Regions from separate parts of the Homo sapiens genome. Here region 2 is linked to region 1. Evidence: fine-mapped expression QTL. A gene starts in region 1. The other region holds a variant in brackets. All regions are shown on one strand. Distances are from middle to middle. Region 1 holds the start of TAF12 (TATA-box binding protein associated factor 12). Region 2 overlaps PHACTR4 (phosphatase and actin regulator 4).

Region 1 (8,334 bases):
GGAATACCGGCTCTCAGCGGCTGTAGGTATCTGACTGGGGAAGACAAGAATCACAACCTATCCAAATTGAAAATGTGTAACTTGTGCCACCCCTAGCCACCACCTTGGAGCAGCCCAGGCAGGCGTGCAGTGGAAGCACAAGGTCACAAGGTCACGCATAAGCTGATTGTCATGGTGTGTTCATATTGTGGCATGCTATATGCTGCACTTCGAAGGAGTATTAGAATTTTTTTTTTTTAAATCGAGTGAAAAGAGTTGTAGAATAAGGTACAGCATAGCATTAATGTGAAAAATGAAATACTGTACCTCAGATGACTGAAGTAGATCTTTATCAACACAATTTTTTTTTTTTTGAGACGGAGTCTCGCTCTGTCGCCCAGGCTGCAGTGCAGTGGCGCGATATCGGCTCACCGCAAGCTCCACCTCCTGGGTTCACGCCATTCTCCTGCCTCAGCCTCCCAAGTAGCTAGGACTACAGGCCCCTGCCACCATGCCCGGCTAATTTTTTGTATTTTTAGTAGAGACGGGGGTTTCACCATGTTAGCCAGGATGGTCTCGATCTCCTGACTTTGTGATCCGCCCGCCTCAGCCTCCCAGAGTGCTGGGATTATAGGCGTGAGCCACCGTGCCCGGCCTGTTCCCATTTTTTTTATGGATAATGATGGACGGGTGCTGTGGGTCATGCCTGTAATCCCAACACTTTGAGAGCCCAGGAGTTTGAGACCACAATGGGCAACATATAGAGACCTCGTCCCTACCCCAAAATAAAATATTAACTGGGCATCGTGGCATGGGCCTGTGGTCCCAGCTACCCCAAAGGCTGAGGCAGAAGGATTGCTTGAGCCAGGGAAGTCAAGGCTACAGTGAGCCATAATCATGCCACTGCACTCCAGCCTAGGTGACAGATGAAGATCTTGTCTCAAGAAAATAAAAAAAAAACAATATGTGACAATTGTAAAGAAATTGAAACAGCACAGAGATGTTATAAAATGTGAAAATGCTTCCTCCAAACTGTGAACAGTTTAGTGTTTATCTTGCCAGACTGCTTTCTATGTATGTACACATCGTATATATATAAAAATAAATGTTTTCAGGCCAGGCATGGTGGCTCATGCCTGTAATCCCAGCACTTTGGGAAGCTGAGGTGGGTGGATCACCTAAGATCAGGAGTTTGAGACCAGCCTGGCCAACATGGTGAAACCCTGTCTCTATTAAAAATACAAAAAATTGGCCGGGTGCGGTGGCTCACGCCTGTAATCCCAGCACTTTGAGAGGCCGAGGTGGGCAGATCACTAGGTCAGAAGATCGAGACCATCCTGGCTAACACGGTGAAACCCCGTCTCTACTAAAAATACAAAAAATTAGCCGGGTGTGGTGGCGGGTGCCTGTAGTCCCAGCTACTCGGGAGGCTGAGGCAGGAGAATGGCGTGAACCCAGGAGGTGGAGCTTGCGGTGAGCCGAGATTGCACCACTGCACTCCAGCCTGGGCGACAGAGTGAGACTCTGTCTCAAAAAAAAAAAAAAAAAAAATTGGCCGAGTGTGGTGGCAGGTGCCTGTAATCCTAGCTACTAGGGAGCTGAGGCAGGAGAATCACTTGAACCTGGGAGGCAGAGGTTGCAGCGAGCCGAGACTGTGCCATTGCACTCCAGCTTGGGCAACAAGAGCGAACTCCGTCTCAAAAAAAAATAAATAAATAATAAAGTAAAATGTTTTCAACACAAAATATAGACTGTTAGGTATTTTACTTTCTTTAATATATTTTAATAATACATGGAGTTCCCTGCTCTTTACAAAGTAGAAGTCACAAGAGAAAGGAGATAAATAAACAGCTCTTACATTGTAATAGGAAGCAGATGTGTTGTATAAACTTGTGAGAAGCCCAGAGATGGTGCTGTCAATTGCTCTTCCTATCATCCACCAGTGTTATCTCTCTCTCTGTCTTTTTTCCTGAGACAGTGTGTTGCTCTGTTGTCCAGGCTGGAATGCAGTGGTGCAATCATAGCTCACTGCAGCCTGGAACTCCTAGGCTCAAGCAGATCCTCCTGCCTGTCAGTCTCCTGAGTGGCTGGGACTACAGGTACACACCACCATGCTGAGGCTAATTTTTTTTTTTTTTTTTTAGAGACAGTGTCTCCCTATCTTGCCCAGGCCGGTCAAACTCCTGGGCTCAAGCAGTCCTCCTGCTGCGCCTCCCAAAGTGTTGGGATTACAGGTGTAAAGCCACCACATCTGACCTTATCTCTCTTTTTTTTTTTTTTCCCAGACAGTCTCACTCTGTTGCCCAGGTTGGAGTGCAGTGGCACGATCTCGGCTCGCTTCAACCTCTACCACCCAGGTTTAAGCGATTCTCATGCCTCAGCCTCCTGAGTAGCTTGGGACTACAGGCACGCGCCACTACACCCGGCTAATTTTTAAAATATTTTTAGTAGGTTTCACCCTGTTGGCCAGGCTGGTCTCAAACTCCTAACCTCAAGTGATCCACCTGCCTCGGCCTCCCAAAATGCTGGGATTACAGGCGTGAGCCACAGTGCCTGGCCTGGCCTTATCTGTTTTTTTGTTGTTGTTGTAGTTTTGTTTGAGATGGAGTCTTGCTCCCGTCACGCAGGCTGGAGTGCACTGGCTCAATCTCCGCTCACTGCAACCTCCACCTCCCGGGTTCCAGCGATTCTCCTTCCGCAGCCTCCTGAGTAGCTGGGGTCACAGGCGTGCACCACCACGCCCAGCTAATTTTTGTATTTTTAGTAGAGATAGGGTTTCACTATTTTGGCCAGGATGATCTCTATCTCCTGACCTCGTGATCCTCCTGCCTCAGCCTCCCAAAGTGCTGGGATTACAGGCGTGAGCCAGGGTGTCCAGTCCTTATCTCTTAAAGAAAAAAAAAAAAAAGAAGAGGCCGGGCGCAGTGGCTCCTGCCTGTAATCCCAGCATTTTGGGAGGCCAAGGCAGGCGGATCACGAGGTCAGGAGATCGAGACCATCCTGGCTAACATGGTGAAACCCCATCTCTACTAAAAATACAAAAAATTAGCCGGGCGCGGTGGCGGGCGCCTGTAGTCCCAGCTACTTGGGAGGCTGAGGCAGGAGAATGGCATGAACCTGGGAGGCGGAACTTGCAGTGAGCCGAGATAGCTCCACTGCAGTCCGGCCTGGGTGAAACAGCGAGACTCCGTCTCAAAAAAAAAAAAAAGAAAATTCATCTACTTGGGAAGCTGAGGTGGAGGAGGATCGCTTGAACACAGGAGTTTGAGGCTGTAGTGAACTATGATTGTGCCACTGCACTCTAGCCCTGGTGACAGAGTGAGACCCTGTATCATTTAACAATCGCCATAATTTCACCGTTCTTCCAACACCTTCCCATTGCATACTGAATATAATCTCAAGTCCCCATCATAGTCTAGGCTAAAAGGTCCAGACTATAACAAACCCCTGCCTACCTCTCCAAACTCATTGTCTTTCCCGGTTACCAAAGCTCCAGCCACCTTGGCCATCTTGGTCCTTGAGTAAGTGTTTTCCTTACTGAAGACCATGGCTCAGGCCATCAGCCAGCTAGATAAGTCTGGCTTATTCCAGTATTCTCTTCTATCACCCTTTTGTGCAGTTGCTAATGGTCTGTTTCCCACTCTAGGTTGCAAACTTTCTAAGGACAGAGATCATCCGTCTTAGCCACCAGTTATGTACTCAGCACATAGCAAAAGGCTTGTCACACAATGAGACTCAAACACTTGTCAAATGAACGTATATACATTCAACCTGGGTCTTAAAAAAGATGTATAGGCATTCAACAACAAAAAGTGGTATGCCGGACCCTAAAAAGAATGGAGAGCAGTGGCAAGGAAATAAGGCTAGGAATACAGCTTAGAGCCCAATGTTCATGAGGACTTGAATCTGAGAATTTGGATTGGGTGGCAGTGTAGAGGGTGGACTGGGAACGTGGTAGGATGAGGATTAGGAAGATATAAAGACAGGGCAGGATGCCGCACCAATCTGGGCACCTCTTCCTAATTTCTATGTGGCTCACTCTGGCCTGTCACAGCTCTTTATACAATTTTTGGTGTGTTTGTGGGTTCTTCTCCATCTTACTGTGAACCTTACAGATGCTGGAATTGGGTCTTACTTGCATGCCTAACATTCCAGCATACAGTAAAAAATAACAGCTGTTCTCTTTTTTTTTTTTTTGAGACAGAGTCTCGCTCTGTCGCCCAGGCTGGAGTGCAGTGGCGCGATCTCGGCTCACTGCAACCTCCGCCCCTCCAGGTTTAAGCAGTTCTCTGCGTCAGCCTCCGGAGTAGCTGCGATTACAGGCGCATGCCACCACGCCCGGCTAATTTTTTGTATTTTTAGTAGAGACGGGGTTTCACCATCTTGGCCAGACTGGTCTTGAACTCTTGACCTCGTGATCCACCCTCCTCGGCCTCCCAAAGTGCTGGGATTACAGGCGTGAGCCACATAACAGCAGTTCTCACCAAGCATCTGACAGCCGAAAAACTGAAAGCATTAGAGAATGCTACAGGACAGGCTTTGGCTTAGTAGTGAGTTCTGAGTTCAAGCTGAGGCTCTGCACTTATTAGCTAGAACTTTGCTTAATCTCTCACAGGTCTCCTCTAAATGATTAAATGGCGTAACGGAGGTAAGCGGATTAGCACAATTCCCGGCAAACAGTAAGCACTCAATTGTTACTACTGAATTGCCAGTTCACAGGCACAACCAACCGATCTCTCTCATCTCCTGGTTCCTCTGTTGCCAACTTCCTCGTTGAGGTCCAACAGGATACCTGTGGGGTAATGTGTCCCAGATGATATCCCAGTCCTGACACCAAGACAAAGGCACCAACCAAAAATGGCGACCTCAAAGCCATCCGAGGGCGTCAATTACCCGTCATGCTACCGATAGATAAATAAGCAGCGTCGGGAAGAAAAGCTAGTGAAGGATTCTTAACGCCGGGTTGGAATACGCAGAGCTCGCTCATGCTGCCACTCAACCACAAGCAGTTAAAAGCGCAAGCTGCAGGGTGTACCTACACACAGCTCAATATCGCCACCACGTGTCGGAGGGCAGTCTGCGCCTGCGCAAGCGAGGCGCGCGCCCGCCGGCCGGAAGAGCCGCGCGTTTCCGGGTTGGAGGCGGGGAGCGGTGCCGGAAGTAGTCGGGGAGGGCCGCGCAGTCGGACCGGCTGCTGAGACGAACGCTTCACTGGGGCAGTCTCTGCATATCATGGGGAGATAGACGCTGCTGCCTGTGAGTCTTGGGCCCTGGCAGTTGAGGAACAAGAGCGGGAGGAGGGAGTCAGGACCCAGACCTACAGTGGGTCAGTGTTCGAAGGACCAGGTTGTGGACGAGACGGGGCTGTGAGGATTCAGGCTCTTGGGAAGGGACTGACTGAGAGGATCAGGCTCGGAGAAGACGCGGCTGTGGGGACCCGGGCTCTAAGACGGGACTTAGGGAACGGGGACGGATGCGAGTTCTCCGGCATCTGAGGGAAAGTGGTCTGAGAGGAGCAGGATTATGAGGACCCGCACTCCTACGAGGAAAGGGTCAGAAAGGAACGGGGCGTGAAGACACAGGCTCCGGAGAGGTAAAAGTGGAGCGGTGAGGACTTGGGCTCCTAAGAGGCAGAAGCGGGACAGTGAAGACCCGGGCTCCTAAGGATTCAGAAACGGGGCAGCGAAGACTTAGGTTCCTGAGGGGCAGAAGCAGACAGAGAAAACTTGAGTTTGGAAGGGAACAGAAGCGGGCAGTGAAGACTGGGGCTTCTTTGGGGACGGGATCCGGGCTTTGAGACTCCGAGTTCCTGAGTCTCGGAACAGGGCTGTGAGTACCCAAGCTCCTAAAAGCCTTGGATCTAAGGGACCATGGATATGAGATCAGCCTACAAAGTAAAGGGAAAGGGTTTGGAAAAGATTTAGTGATCCATTTTTTCACAGTATTCCCTGAACCCAGAGAGATAAAGGACGTATTCAGGGGAAGACAACTTCTCCTTCGCACTGCCTACTTGGCTCTTGGCAAGCTTTTCTTGTGTCAGATACTCAATCTAGGAAGCCCATATGCAAACATCTTCATTTTCTGCTTCATTCTTGGGAATCAGATGTGAAGTTGAAAACAGTTGGAACTCAGTTATGTACTTGATAAGTGCTTTAAATCCCATTCCACTCAACCCTGAATGAGCACAGATCTCTGCATCTCAAATAAAAGAATGTCAGTGATGGAAGAGTCCCAAAAGATCATCTTTTAAAAACTCCTATTTTACATTTAAGAAGGCTAAGGTTCAAAGAGGCTTAGGATTACAGTGAGGCAATGGTTAGTTAGATCATAATTTTAATACAGTACCCTTCTGTGCGTAGCAAATGAGATGCTTGGTTAATGTTCCTTAAATGCTTCTAGAATCTTTGCTTTATCTTCAAACTCAGGAGGGAATTTTTTTTTTTTTTTTTTTTTTGAGACAGGTTCTCTCTCTGTCGCCCAGTCTGAAGTGCAGCGGCTCAGTCTTGGCCCCGTGCACCTCCAACCTCCTAGGCTCAAGCAGTCTTCCCACCTATACCTCCTGAGTAGCTGGAACTACGGGCGTGTGCCACCACGCCCTGCTAATTTTTAAATTTTTTGTAGAAACAGGGTCTCACTATATTGCCCAGGCTGGTCTCAAACTCCTAAGCTCAAGTGATCCTCCCACCTTGGCCTCCCAAAGTGCTGGGATTACAGGCATGAGTCACCTCACCCCCCTTGCAGTTTTTGTTTTTGTTTTGTTTTGTTTTGTTTTTTTGAGACAGAGTCACCCAGGCTGGAGTGCAGTGGCACGATCTCGGCTCACTGCAATCTCTGCTTCCCCAGTTCAAACGATTCTCCTGCCTCAGCCTCTCAAGTAGCTGGAATTACAGGTGTGTGCCACAATGCCCGGCTACTTTTTGTATTTTTAGTAGAGACAGGTTTTTGCCATGTTGGCCAGGCTGTGTTTCGAACTCCTGATCTCAAGTGATCCGCCCGCCTCAGCCTCCCGAAGTGCTGGGATTATAGAAATGAGCCACTGCGCCCGGCCCAGTTTTTATTTCCAGTAAAAACTGGAAATTTTTACAGTTTCTGATAATTTGAGTGTTGTTACTGTATTGACATTAATACAGTAAATGTCACTTAATAGTAAGGAAACCTTTATTTTTATTTTTGTGTTTTTGAGACAGGGTCCTGTTCTGTTGCCCATATTGGAGTGCAGTGGCATAATCATAGTTCACTGCAACCTATATTCTTGGGCTCAAGCACTCCTCCTGCCTCAGCCTCCTGGGACTGCAGGTATGAGCCACTACACCCAGCTAATTTTTAAGTTTTTTTGTAGAGACAGTGTTTGGCTGTGTTGCCTAGGCTGCTGTTGAATTCTTGGCCTCAAATGATTCTCCCGCCTTGGCCTCCCAAAATGTTCTTATAGGCATGAGCCACTGCACCTGGCTGGAACCTTTAAATAAAGCTCAGTGTTATTTATTTATTTAATAAGCTGTTTGGAAAGTCATAAATAAGTGTGTCCTGTATTTTTAGTGCAAACATTTACTAGGGATGGCTGCTTTTGGATAAGGATGGTGGGGAGACTTGCACCAGTCACTTCCTTCAATATTAATATCTTTTTCTGAAACCTACTCAGACTAACGAGGCACAGCTTATGCACTATCGAGTATTCTATGATTTAATTATCACAGCCCCACAAGTTAGATATTGTCAGTCCCGTTGTACAGATAATGAAATAGGTTTAGAGAGGTTACTTTGCCTGAAATCACACAGTGACCCAACCCCAGTTACATGTGCCTCTAAAACTTTTTTCTACTCTTCTAAGTGGATTCCTCTCAGTTTGTCCATCAGCAAAATAGAAGTAATCGTTATACAAAACATATAATTGAATGAAAGCATCTCCTCCTTCTTAAGGCTCCTCTAAATGTCAAGGACTATAACATATTAGGGTACTTATGTATTGTGGCATTTGAGAACTAAATTCTGTTTTCACAGAAGCATAGATTATTCAAGATAGAAAAACGGGAACTTTGTAGAGCTTTTCCTTGCAATGTAGAAAGACATTTAATTTTAGATTTAGGAGGCCAAGAAAGACTAATTTGGACTGGGCATGATGGCTCACACCTGTAATCCCAGCACTTTGGGAGGCCAAGGCGGGCGGGTCACCTGAGATCAGGAGTTCGAGACCCGCCTGGCCAACATGGCAAAACCCCGTCTCTACTAAACATACAAAAATTAGCTGGGCATGGTGGCACATGCCTGTAGTCCCAGCTACTCTGGAGGCTGAGGTGGGAGAGAATCACTTGAATCCTGGAGGTGGAGGTTCAATGAGCCGAGATTGTGTCACTGTAC
Region 2 (8,334 bases), 170 kb after region 1:
GGGTGGGGACGGTTTTGATAACAATGTACCACTGTTTATTGCTTGGGACAGTTCAGCTGGAAAAGAGAGAGCAACACATCAATTTCACGACTTTCCAATGCTTTGAAGGGCCGGCCCAGGGCCTAGAATTAAAGTTGAGTTCAGTTTTAATCTTTTAAGCAAGTTAAATAATTTCATAGTTTTGCCATTCCCTATATATTTTATCCTGAAATGAAGTTTATATTTATTCAAATAGAAGGCTTAATAAATGTACAGAGGTGTAGGAAGACTGATGAGTAGCTTACTTCATTGCTATGGCAACAGATATGACAATTTTTTTTTTTTTTTTTTTTTTGAGACAGGGTCTCACTCTCTCGCCCAGACTGGAGTGCAGTGGCGCGATCTTGGCTTACCGCAACCTCTGCCTCCCGGGCTCAAGCGATACTCCTGCCTCAGTCTACCAAGTAGCTGAGATTACAGGCGCACGCCACTACGGCCCGGCTAATTTTTGTATTTTTAGTAGAGGCGGGCTTTCACCATGTTGGCCAGGCTGGTCTCGAACTCCTGACCTCAAATGATCCACCTGCCTTGGCCTCTCAAAGTGTTGGGATTACAGGCGTGAGCCATGGCACCCGGCTGACAACTTTTTGTAACTTGATCTTGGTGTAGTTAATATGAATAGAGACAAAAAAAATCTGATAAAAAGTTATCTTGTGGCTGGCACGGTGGCTCACACCTGTAATCCCAATACTTTGGGAGGCCGAGGTGGGCAGATTACTTAGGTCAGGAGTTCGAGACCAGCCTGGCCAACATGGTGAAACCCCGTCTCTACTAAAAAAAAAAAAAAAAAATTACAAAAATTAGCTAGGTGTGGTGGTGGGCACCTATAATCCCAGCTACTCAGGAGAGGCTGAGGCACGAGAATCTCTTGAACCTGGGAGGCGGAGGCTGCAGTGAGTCAAGGTCATGCCACTGCACTCCAGGCTGGACAGCACAAGACTCTGACTCAAAAAAAAAAAAGTTATTTTGTATAACAGTACTCCATTAAAAAATTTAAACATTCAGATAGCATAAAATAAGTATTAGTGGGTATTGTTACCATATCCTGATAATGGTATCTAGATATCTTAGCTCTGTGTTATAAAACTGTCAATACTGACATCTTGAATTTTTATAGCAATTGCAAAGTCCTTTGAAGAAATCAAAGTGTTTTTTGTCCTTGAAGTCATATTCTCCTTATACCACCTGAGGTGACAGGGGAAAAAATATAGCATCTTTACCATTTTTCAGAAGGAAAAGGCAAGGCCACAGAAGCTAGGTGACTTTGCCCAAGATCATACTACAAACTGGCATGGACTCAGCTGGTATCCAAGTCTCTGACTATTTGACTGCATCCTACTGTCTCTAATTTTTTTTTTTTTTTGAGACGGAGTCTTGTCGCCCAGGCTGGAGTGCAGTGGTGCCATCTCGGCTCACTGCAAGCTCTGCCTCCCGGGTTCACACCATTCGCCTGCCTCAGCCTCCCAAGTAGCTGGGACTACAGGCGCCCACCACCACTCCCGGCTAATTTTTTGTGTATTTTTAGTAAAGACGGGGTTTCATCATGTTAGCCAGGATGGTCTCAATCTCCTGACCTCGTGATCCGCCCGCCTCGGCCTCCCAAAGTGCTGGGATTACAGTCGTGAGCCACCGCGCCCGGCCTACTGTCTCTAATTTTTATTGGTATGCACACCTCTTATGTTCCCTTTGCACCTCAGCTTCCCATGTTCACTCTCCACTATATCATGGGCTCCTTGATGGCAGGGCAACCTTGTCTCCATCAACATATCATCCACAGGGCTGTGCACAGTACCTGGCATCTAGTGGACCCTCAATATATGTTTATTAGATGAGAAGCCTTCACCCTGTATCATGACAGTATATATTCCTATAGTTTCACCAAAGCCCACAATGACTCAGCAAAGGTGTTGGTGTTGTTTCAGCAAAGTCCCTTTGGAGGGCTCCAGATGACCTGTAAGAAGTGGATCATCAGATCACACAGGAGTAAAACTGGTAAAGTAATTAAAGGGTAGTTATTTTTTCCCTGCTGACAGGAAAAAAAAAAAAAAAGTAGTTCTTTTGATCACCAACCTCTAACCTTCTACTCAAACCCTTTAGTTTCATCCCACTCAGTATTCTCAAACACTCTCAAAAACTTCCCTTAAATAAAACTGTATTTGTCCTAAATCTCCAAAATTGGAGATGTTCAAAGTAAAAGGCTAGCTAATTATTTTTTTCTTTTTTGAGATGGAGTTTCACTCGTTGCCCAGGCTGGAGTGCAATGGCGCCATCTCGGCTAACTGCAACCTCCACCTCCTGGGTTCAAGTGATTCTCCTACCTCAGCCTCCTGAGTAGCTGGGATTACAGGCATGTGCCACCACGCCCGGCTAATTTTTTGTATTTTTAGTAGAGATGGGGTTTCTCCATGTTGGTCAGGCTGGTCTTGAACTCCCGACCTCAGGTGATCCACCCGCCTCGGCCTCCCAAAGTGCTGGGATTACAGGCATGTCCGCTTTGCCCGGCCAAGGCTAGCTAATTTTATAATTCTTTTTTTTTTTTTCTTTTGAGACAAGGTCTCCCTCTGTTGCCCAGACTGGAGTGCAGTGGCATGAACAATAGCTCACTGCAGCCTCGATCTCCTGGGTTCAAGTGATCCTCTTGCTACAGCCTCCCAAGTAGCTAGGACTACAGGCCCATGCCCCCATGCCTGACTAATTTTTTTAATTTTTAGTAGAGACAAGGTCTCACTATGCTGCCCAGGCTGGTCTTGAGGTCCTGGGCTCCAGTGATACACCTATCTCAGCCTCCCAAAGTGCTGGGATTATGGATGTGAGCCACCACACCCAGCCTCTTTTCTTTTTAAATTTATTTTTATTTTTAAATTAAATTAATTTATTTTAGACAGGGTCTCACACTGTGTCACTGGAGTGCAGTGGCGCAGTCACGGCTCACTGCAATTTTGACCTCCCTGGGCTCAGGTGATCCTCCCACCTCAGCCTCCCAAGTAGCTGGGACCATAGGCATGTGCCACCATGCCCGGCTAATTTTTG[G/T]GGGGGGTATTTTTTGTAGAGATGGGTTTCTCCATGTTGCCTAGGCTGGTCTCAAACTCCTGGGCTCAGGTAATCTACCTGCCTCAGCCTCCCAAAGTGTTGGTACTACAGGTGTGAGCCACTGTACCTAGCCTTTTCTTTTTTTTTAGAGACAGGATGTTGCTCTGTTACCCAGGCTAGAGTGCAGTGGTGCAATCATAACTCACTGCAGCCTTGAACTCCTGTGCTTACCCAATCCTCTTACCTCAATCTCCCAAGTAGCTAGAATTACAGGCACATGTCACCATGCCCAGCTAATTTTTAAATATTTTATAGAGATGGGGTCTTGCTACGTTGCTCAGGCTGGTCTTGAACTCCTGGCCTCAAGTGATCTTCCCACCTCGGCCTCCCCAAATGCTGGGATTATAGGCATTGAGCCACTGTGCCTGGCCTAATTTTGTAATGTTTTAATGTCTCTCATCATAAATAATTTTTTTTTTTTTGAGACAGAGTCTCGCTCTGTTGCCTAGGTTGGAGTACAGTGGTGCAATTTTGGCTCACTGCAACCGCCACTTCCCGGGTTCAAGTGATTCTCTCCTGCCTCAGCCTCCTGAGTAGCTGGGATTATAGGCATGCACCATCATACCCAGATCATTTTTTGTATTTTTAGTAGAGATGGGGTTTCACCATGTTGCCCAGGCTGGTCTCAAACTCTGGGCCTCAAGCGATCTGCCCACCTCGGCCTCCCGAAGTGCTGGGATTACAGGCATGAGCCACCATGCCTGGCCCCATAAATAAATTTTAAAAAAGGCTTTCTAGAAAAACACTGCATACACACACAAAAAGATTCTAAAAATGTGAATTTTAGGAGCAGTGAAAGAGATATTTTTGGAAAGATTGGATTTTTGCTGATTCTCTAAAAATAGCTGTTAGCTATTCCATCTACAACAAAACTCATTCCTGATGAGACCATAAATGAATATTTTTACTTTTGAATTAATAAAATAAATTCTATTTGGTAATTTGAGGAAGGCATATATGTTAAGGAAGTAAATTCTGGTATATATACCCTGACAACAGCATCTGGCTGTAGTTCTGTGGAAAAATTTCAGAGTGTTTCTGGGATGGGTAATAATTCCCTTTCACCCGTTCAGCTATTGCTGGTGGTTTTTCCTTAGTCGTAATACTCCATGTTATATGGATGAGAAGACAGTAGTACTTCTGAAGCAATGATTTCCAAACTTTTGGATTTCAGTGACCAAAACAATAACAAAAATCTTGATCAACCTCAGATTGTTGGTTTTTTTTCTAGTGTTTTTTTGAGGTTGTCATTTTCTAAGATTTCCAAATAAGGCTTGATATTAAGTAAACCATTTATGATCATAATCCTTTTGTGAAAGAAATGGCATTTTAACACCAAAGGATTAGGAAGGTTGTAATTTTAGAATAAAAGAGAGTCCTTTAAATTAAATCTATTTAGCTCTAAGAAATGCTCTGTGAACTGTTCTATTTTTCTTCTTTTGTTGAGGACCCCTCATGGACTAATACTGATTCCTCAGTTACAAGGTCTATTGTTTTGGGCTATTTACCTCAAGCTAAGAATGAGCTCTGCAGTTTAGTCCAGGGTATCATACACAAATTATCATTTTATATGTTGCCTTAACTTGAAAAGGGTGGTATGCCACTGGTGTAGAGCAGAGGCTCTTAATGTGTGCTCCCTGGAGAGCAGCATCAGTGTCATCTGGGAACCTATTAGAAAGGCAAATTCTCAAGCCCATCCCAGGCTTACTAAAATCAGAAACTCTACGGGTAGTGTCCAGCAGTCTGTTATCATAAGCTTTCTAGGTGATCCTGAGGAGAACACCAGTTTGCAAACACTACTGTAAGGAACAGAGGTCTGGACCTGAGAGTTGAAAAGCCTATGTTCAGTTTCTATCTTTCACTAACTACAACCTTCTTCTTTTTTTTTGAGATGGAGTTTTGCTCTTGTTGCTCAGGCTGCAATGCAGTGGCACAATCTCAGCTCACTGCAACGTCTGCTTCCCACGTGCAAGCAATTCTCCTGCTTCAGCCTCCCGAGTAGCTGGGATTACAGGTGCCTACCACCATGCCCGGCTAATTTTTTGTATTTTTAGTAGAGATGGCGTTTCACCATGTTGGCCAGGCTGGTCTTGAACTCCTGACCTCAGGTGATCCACCCGCCTCTGCCTCCCAAAGTGCTGGGATTACAGGCATGAGCCACTGCGCCTGGCCTACAACCTTGAATGAGTCACAATGTCTTCATGTTCTAATTGCCCTACCTATGGAAAAGATAAAATTGGTTTCCTGCAGCACAAGGTAGTTTTGAAAATAAGTATGTGAAAGCTCCCCAAGTTCCTCACAGATAAGTCAACATGACACTATCCATCCAAAGTGGTGGTAATAACAACTTCATCCTGTTTTCATCAAGCTACTCCAAACTGTCATACTCATAAAATATTCTAAGCCTGTTTTTCAAGGTTTGAATCACTCCACCCAACATGGTGATATTAAATATTTAATGAGTATAGTTTTTATTCATTCGTTCAATCGTGAACAAGAACTTTAAGCAATACTAAGCCTAGTATCATTTTTCCTGAAAAAACTATATTTTTATTAGCTTTGAAGCACTCATTAGCTTTCCTCTCCCTTTCTTGAAAATTCTTCTAAGAAATTGTGCATTTATATAAAGAAAGTAGACTTAAATAGAACTTTGGGTAAATGCAAAAAATTTACTAAACCCATACAAATTTTACTGATTATATTCCCTGCTTTCTCTACCATCACTTATTTTAACATAAGAATAGCATTCTTAATTCTCCCAAGATAAAACATGATTTTATCAGAACAATTTAAGTAATAGCTTCTGCAGTTCCCTGTGAAGATAACTATGCCAGACACTGAATCCCAAATTCCACTGGCATCTACAGAATCATCCTTTTATCTACTAGACTCATTAATGCTTATGGAAGGCATAGGTAGTTTTAAGTAGATTTAAAAATTTTCATTTGAAAAGTTTGCCTTGCCCCTTGTGAGCTGAGGCATTATTCTAATTTTTCAGCAAGTGCCACAGATAATTCCATGCAGGTGGAATCTGTTATGGTTTTCACATATCCAGTCCAATTACACACACACACACACACACACACACACACACACACACAAATATGTATAGTGTTTTGGAATCATTGTTTTAGAAAAACAGATTAAATATTAGATTAAAAAATAGGTTAAAACCCCCAAAACTTAAATCTAATCTTAGTGATGTTTACATTTATGGCCATCTGCCTCAGTTTCATGACTTTTTTTGTTTGTTTGTTTTTGTTTTTTTGAGACGGAGTCTCTCTCTGTCGCCTAGGCTGGGGTGCATTGGCACAATCTTGGCTCACTGCAACCTCCGCCTCCTGGGTTCAAGCAATTCTCTTGCCTCAGCCTCCCAAGTAGCTGGGACTACAGGCACGTGCCACCACGCCTGGCTAATTTTTTGTATTTTTAGTAGAGATGGGGTTTCACCATGTTGCCAGGATGGTCTCAATCTCCTGACCTTGTGATCCACCCACCTCGGCCTCCCAAAGTGCTGGGATTACAGGCGTGAGCCACCGCACCTGGCCTATTTTTTCTTAACCTAAGACTTTTCTCCATATTGAGGTCATTCAAAGGGACAAGATATGGAAAATTCTCACAGACCAAATCAATGTTGTACCAGTTATCAAATAAAATAACCATCCAACATCAAACCAAACCCAAAACACTGGAAGCCTAAAGACTTACTTACCAATGACAGGGTTGCTATTTCTGTGAGCTGGTTTAGGGGGAGGGATAGGGGGCTGCTTGGCAGGGACCATATGAGTGAGGCTTGGGGTAGCAGTAGTGTTAGTGCTGGCAGGAGCAGCAGGCAGAGTCCTGGGTGCTGGGGAAGGGGTGACAGAGAGATTAACAGTCTTTGCAAGGCTTGTGGCAGCAGTGGTGGCAGCGGGTGCTGTGGTGATGGAGGTGGAGATGATGAACCTTGCCGTGCCGCCAGAGGAAGTGGCATCCTTTGCTTGCCCTTCACTTGCTTCATGAGAAGAGGACAAGGGTCTTTTGGGAGGAAGTAAAGGTGGTTTGGGTACATTCTCAGGAACAGACTCTGCTTCAGAATTAGGCTGGCTTCCAGTTGAGCCTGTGTAATAACATGTATGGTATAAAAAGGGAAGAGAGAGTAACAAGAGAAACTGAAAAAGCTAACACATCTATGAATTTGTGGCCAATTTCACCAATTAATTTATAGATTAGCTTATAGGTTACCATTCTCAATGCCTCCCAACCTCCCCATACTTAAGAAATGTCAGTAAGAAAGGCTCACTAAGAGATGCTCATTGTGGTAGTGATTCTTCACACAAGGGCCAGGCTACTGGAGGAGAGCCACAACAAAATTCCTTGGGTGAAAGAAGTGGAATGTGTAGCTGGAAAAAATCCTATAGGTATCTGATACTTAACATCCTCTTCCCTTCTTGAGGATCACAAATTTAGGTATTTAGTGAATAAAAGCGGGGTGGGGGAGGAAATTCCCCTTGAAGTTGCTAGTTAAGGTATTGTTAAAGGAGAATGTAATTCTCTCTAGATTTCACTTTTCCCTGTTCTCTTGCAAACCCCTTATGTAAGGAGAATAACTGGCCCGTGGCTCTTAAACTCAAAAATCCAGAGTTTCTTACCTAGTCGTTTCTTTAGGTCCTCTTCTGGAATAGCTTTCCTAAGACTTGCTAATCTTACTGGCTCTTCCTCTACTTGGACTGGACTAGATGATCTGGCATTCCCTATGGGGGTGGTATGGCCATTCTTTAACATGGCATCGCTTGGCTTTCCTGGATCCTCACCACCTGCAAGGTGAAAGAAGAGTACAAAGTGATGAAGTTGGCATGAACAGATAGAAAGAAGAGTTAGTAATTTCTTTTTTTCTTTCTCTCTCTTTTTTAAATTGAGACAGGGTCTCACTATGTTGCCCAGGCTGGTCTTGAACTCCTGGGCTCAAGCAATCAGCCCGCCTTGGTCTCCCGAAGTGCTAGGATAAATGGCATGAATCACTGCGCCTGGCCAGAGTTGGTGATTTGAGACAGGGTCTCACAGACCAGGCTGGAGTGCAGTGGCATGATCTTGGCTCGCTGCAGCCTCTGCCTCCCGGGTTCACGCCATTCTCCTGCCTCAGCCTCCTGAGTATCTGGGACTAGACGCCTGCCACCACGCCCGACTAATTTTTTGTATTTTTTAGTGGAGACGGGGTTTCACCGT

Evidence for each region. PIP is the estimated chance that this variant, and not a neighbour inherited with it, causes the effect.
Region 2: its variant is the best candidate, but not a certain one, in a credible set for the expression of TAF12 in whole blood (TOPMed, PIP 0.58).

The regions. Positions count from the first base shown.
Region 1 is chr1:28,639,893-28,648,226 of GRCh38, reverse strand. It overlaps TAF12 (TATA-box binding protein associated factor 12), which reads left to right and starts at 5,160. Exons shown (of 6, transcript NM_005644.4): 1 at 5,160-5,235. It overlaps TAF12-DT (TAF12 divergent transcript), which reads right to left and starts at 4,971. Exons shown (of 2, transcript NR_146730.1): 1 at 4,464-4,971; 2 at 1-34. RefSeq lists an enhancer at 2,609-3,108 and a silencer at 3,316-3,610.
Region 2 is chr1:28,465,276-28,473,609 of GRCh38, reverse strand. PHACTR4 (phosphatase and actin regulator 4) reads right to left here. Exons shown (of 14, transcript NM_001048183.3): 5 at 7,761-7,925; 6 at 6,842-7,228; 7 at 1-56. Among named protein-coding and RNA genes, the nearest start is that of SNHG3, 36 kb to the left of the region's middle. The variant G/T (reference allele first, on the strand shown) is at 3,070.